2 separate regions of the Homo sapiens genome follow, and region 2 is linked to region 1. Evidence: fine-mapped expression QTL. Tissue or cell type: lung. Region 1 holds a variant in brackets; the other region holds the start of a gene. All regions are shown on one strand. Distances are between the middles of the regions.

What was found. PIP is the estimated chance that this variant, and not a neighbour inherited with it, causes the effect.
Region 2: it holds the start of KLHL5, and the variant in region 1 is fine-mapped to the expression of KLHL5 in lung (TOPMed, PIP 0.95).

The regions. Positions count from the first base shown.
Region 1 is chr4:39,220,277-39,222,970 of GRCh38, forward strand. All of the region lies in intron 14 of WDR19 (WD repeat domain 19), which reads left to right. Among named protein-coding and RNA genes, the nearest start is that of WDR19, 39 kb to the left of the region's middle. The variant T/G (reference allele first, on the strand shown) is at 1,184.
Region 2 is chr4:39,060,918-39,063,611 of GRCh38, forward strand. It overlaps KLHL5 (kelch like family member 5), which reads left to right and starts at 1,315. Exons shown (of 11, transcript NM_015990.5): 1 at 1,315-2,118. The coding sequence starts at 1,736.

The DNA of each region.
Region 1 (2,694 bases):
TACTACTTTAAAAGTTTCCACTTTCTCACATGAAATTATGATTATCATTATTGTTTTTTAGAGACAGGATGTCACTCTGTCACCCAGGCTGGAGTGCAGTGGCACAATCATAGCTTACTACAATCACAACCTCCTGGGCTCAAGCAATCGTCCTGCCTTATCCTTCTGAGTAGCTAGGACAGATGCATGCCACCATGTCGTGCTAATTTTTAGTTTTTTAAATTATTTTTCTTTTTTCTCTTCTTCTTCTTCTTTTTTTTTTTTTTAGAAACAGACCTCCTTGATTTTTTTTTTTTTTTTTTTTTTTTGAGACAGAGTCTCTCTCTGTCGCCCATGCAATTCTCTGCCTCAGCCTCCCTAGTAGCTGGGATTACAGGTACCCGCCACCACACTCAGCTAATTTTTGTATTTTTAGTAGAGACGGGGTTTCATCATCTTGGCCAGGCTGGTCTTGAACTCCTGACCTCGTGATCCACCCGCCTCAGCCTCCCAAAGTGCTGGGATTACAGGCGCAAGGCACCGTGCCCAGCTGAAACATTTTTTATATTTTCTTTTTATTTATTTATTTATTTATTTTAGAAACCTGCTAATTAATTTTTTTTTTTTTTTTTTTTTTTTTGATGGGGGTAGAAACTGGGTCTCCCTTTGTTGCTTGGGCTGGTCTTGAACTCCTAGTCTCAAGTGATCCTCCTACTTTGGCCTCTCAAAGTGCTGGAATTACAGGCATGGGACACAGGAGCCTGGCCTAAATTATTTTTTTTAAAAGAACATGTTTTAAAGCATGCTTGTTGCCATCTGAGAGACTTTTTAAAATTTATGTTTGACCTAAACTAGTAAGTCTCTGAGATAATATACATCAGTAAGGTAGGTCTCATATATCAGGTAATTTGGTGATATGGAAAAATATGGAATAGGAAATTTGTATGACACTAATAGTTTATAGAGCCCTGATCTCACTTATTTTATCTCATTATCTATAAAATACACAGGGAAATTTTCAGGAGGAAGATACTGAAGATTGAGAGGCTAGCAAGTCTGTAGCAAAGTGGAACTTAAACTAAGATTTCCTGATGGAAAATCTACTCTTTCCACTATGCCACAGTGCTTTTGGAATAAGTGTAGTAGTCTGTTCATAAAGCAGCAACTATCCTGGTTTCATTCTTGAGTGATTCAGAAAATATCA[T/G]GTTTTTTGGCAGCTTTATTGAAGTTTAATTGATATGCAAAAAAATGCACTATTAAAGTTATACAATTTGGACAGGCGTGGTGGCACATGCCTGTAATCCCAGCACTTTGGGAGGCCAAGGCAGGCTGATTGCCTGAGCTCAGGAGTTTGAGGCTCAGAAATAGTGAACATACTCATCACCCCCAAAAGTTTTCTCCTGCTCCTTTATGATTCCTCCCTCTCATCTGTCCCCACCCCATGCTTTTTCTGTAACTGTAAATGTAATAAATGTTTGTATATTCTAGAGTTTCATATAAATGGAAACATAAAGTATGCACTACTTTTTGTTTGTCTTTTATTCAACATTAATTTTTTTGAGATGCATTATGCTGTTGTGTGTGTCAGTAATTCATTTCTTTTTATTGCTGAGTAGTAGTAGTCTATAGTATGTATATATCATAATTTGCTTATCCAAGAATTATAGGTGAACATTTGAGTTATTTCCAGTTTGGGGTATTTACAAATAAAGCCTCTATCAACATTCATGTTCAAGAAACTGGTAAACTGTTCTCTAAATCGGTTGTACCATTTTACATTCCCATCAACAGTGTGTGAGTGTTCCAGTTCCTCTCTGTCCTCACCAAGATGTGACATAATCAGTCTTTTTCATTTTAGCCACTCTAATAGATGTGTAGTGGTATCATTGTTATTTTAATTTGGATTCCTAATGAACTAATGATGTGGCACTTAGCATATGTTTATTTGCTTTCTGTATATCTTTGGTGAAGCGTCTGTTCAAATTTTTTGACCAATTTTTGATTGAGTTGTTTTCTTATTGATTTATGAGAGTTCTTTATATATATTTGGATTCAACTCCTTTATCAGATGTATGCTTTGCAAATATTTTCTTCCAGCGCACAGATTGTATTTTTATTCTCTTAATAGTGTCTTTCAAAGAGAAGATTTTTTTTAATGTTTACAAAGTCCAGTTTATCAATTTATTTTTTCATGGATCATGCTTTTGGTGTCATAGCTAAGAAATCTTTGCCTAACCCAGCGTCACAAAATTTTTTCCTATGTTTTCTTCTAGAAATTTTATAGTTTTATGTTTTGCATTTAGGTCCATTGAGTTAAATTTTGTTTATGCCATGAGGTATAGATCACTTTTTGCAAATGATATCCAGTTGTTCCAGCACCATTTTTTGAAAAGATTATCCTTCTCTATCTTGCCCTGAATAGAAGTCCAAAATGTTACCTTTTTTTAAATTTTAATTAAACTTTCTGTTTTGAGATCCTTGTAAAATTCACATGCAGTTGTAAGAAACAACGCAGAGAGAAGTCCTAGGTACCCCTTTACCTAGTTTCCCGCAGTGGTAACATTATAGTAATCACAACCAGGATATTGACATTGGTACAGTCAACATACAGAACAATTCTGCTGCCACCCCATTCTTAACCCCTGGTAACAACTTGTTCTCCATTTCCATAATTTTGCCATTTCAATAATGTGTAAATGGAATCAAACAGTATGC
Region 2 (2,694 bases), 160 kb before region 1:
TATCTCTTACTACACCTTAAAATTAATTTGGTATGGCTGGCTGATCAAACTGATTATTTCCCACTTCTTCCTTGTAGATATGCCCACTTCATGCTTTTATTAGAATCTTTTTCTGTAGAAATCTATCATTCTACCTAAACAATGTTTTACTATTCTTAGCAGCCTTCTCCCTAATGAAACTGGCCCATACCACTCCATTGCCATCCTGATATCTCCTTTCTTTCTTACAGTTTGTATGGTTTTTCCCGTATTATTTAGCATGAAATCATACTTGGCTTTTTATGCTTCTCATTCTTGTTTCTCTGAATAATTTGTATTAAGATAGACACCTCACAATATTTTTGTAAGCCTCCAAAGTAGTTTTTGTTTTTGTTTTTTGGTCAGCTTAGATAGGCATTGCCTTTTGTATGGAATTAGTTGATAAAGGAGTAAATACTGAGCACCCTGAAAACTCAAATTCTGCATTGATAGATCACACTTTAATATTGCAGCATTTTAATGTTTCTTATTTTACCTTATCAAATATTTTGTATTTGGTTCAATAGCTAGATTTAATTATTTTGGGGGTTAGGAACCAAGATATATATATCTCTGTGTCCCTGACAATGCCTAGTAGATTGCATTGTTCACAATAACTACTCAGTATTTTTGAGTTTATTTGTATTTGCTTTATCAATTTGCCTTAACTGTAACCATGTTCAAACCATTGTTTGTTTTGCTAACAACAGAGGGCACCATTAGGGCACTTGTACACCCAATAGTCCTATCCCAGTCCCTGGTAGCTTTTTTGAGCCGCACTTTTCCTTTTCCTAAGTAATGTCATAGAAATTTGGATGTTACACTAACTGGCAGTGGCCCATTTCTACTTATAGAGAAATCCTGGCCTCAGTTTATTTGAAAAAGAGTATTTGTTACATTTTGATCCTTTGTAGTTTTCAAACTTTTTATTCTCCTCATTATTCTTTATCCAAGTGAAATCTTACCCAGGATCTTACTGTATTAATTAGATCCATTTGTTTTCTGAAGGGAGAAGATAGAGGTGAAGGCAATAGTCTGGAGCCCCACCTTTGTACTCCGCTTTCCTCCTCATTCCCCATCCAAAGAGCACACCTGGAAAATCACCATAACTCATCTAATTTTACAAATGCTTTTTTAAAAACTTGTTTTGTGGTATTTCACTTAGGGACTTAGTTTAGAAATAGAAACATTTTAGTTTTAAAGTGATTATTTTTAAGTACAAAGGGAAATGCTATAGAATACATTTATTGTTTCAGCAATGAAAGAGTTAATATACTAAGCAGCAGAGACTGAGATACTGCAACGGGGATAGTGTTTTCTGTCTCTGTCATTTGTGGTTTAAGAAAAAGGGGGTGGTGTTCTGCATTTGAAAGGACTTTAATGAATGCTGTCAGTGTTTGTGAGACCTAATGGTCAGTATGGGAAAGGAGAGCCGGGAAAGTGGTCTAGCTGCTTCAGGATAGGTGGATGAGAGTTTGCTCTGATTGAACGGAATGTTCCACCGTGTTTCATCTTTATTCATTATCCTTTGTTCTTTAAAATCTGATATATTGGCATAAAAGTAATTGTAGATATATATATGAATGTGATTTATTTTCCTTTACATATTTTTGTTGTGTACAGCAGGGCATATACTTCTCTTGTCTTGGTTGGATGCACAAATCTGTGTGCAGTGCTTTTTGCCCGTTGCCTAGACGATCACTTGGTTTCTCTGAGGATGTCTGGTTCTCGTAAAGAGTTTGATGTGAAACAGATTTTGAAAATCAGATGGAGGTGGTTTGGTCATCAAGCATCATCTCCTAATTCTACAGTTGACAGCCAGCAGGGAGAATTTTGGAACCGAGGACAGACTGGAGCAAACGGTGGGAGAAAGTTTTTAGATCCATGTAGCCTACAATTGCCTTTGGCTTCAATTGGTTACCGAAGGTCCAGCCAACTGGATTTTCAGAATTCACCTTCTTGGCCAATGGCATCCACCTCTGAAGTCCCTGCATTTGAGTTTACAGCAGAAGATTGTGGCGGTGCACATTGGCTGGATAGACCAGAAGTGGATGATGGCACTAGTGAAGAAGAAAATGAATCTGATTCCAGTTCATGCAGGTTGATTATTTTCTTACTGTTAGAAAAGGGGTGTGGGGGTATGGCTCTATAATGTTTTTAAATAATTTAGTATTTATTATTTAAAATCTGATTATATATGTACATCTGCATACATATATATAATATCTTGGTATGAACATGTGATACTTCTGCTAGGGTTTTTTTAATGTTCTAATAGTCTGTAAAATTACAAAGACAACAAATAGCATTCATTTTGAAATATCTTGTGTTCTATATATAGATCTGGCTCAGCTTTGAAAATAATATATAGTAGCAATTTCATGTATCATTGCCTGTGGTTTGCTTCATTCATTAACCTTCTATATTCATATCAAAACTATAGAAGATATTTCTATAGTATGAAATTTTATGTGACATTTTAGTTTATAACAGATGATAGAGTCATTTTTTAATTTAATGAAAAGGAAAGGTTTTGCAAAGAGATGCACATTATAGTCACCAATTTTTTGACACAATTGTAGTTGTCAATAATATTTTTCTTATGGTTATTTCTCTTTGTCCTGTCTGTGTTACAGCTCTCCAGACTAATATAGAGAATACTAAGTAACATGTCTC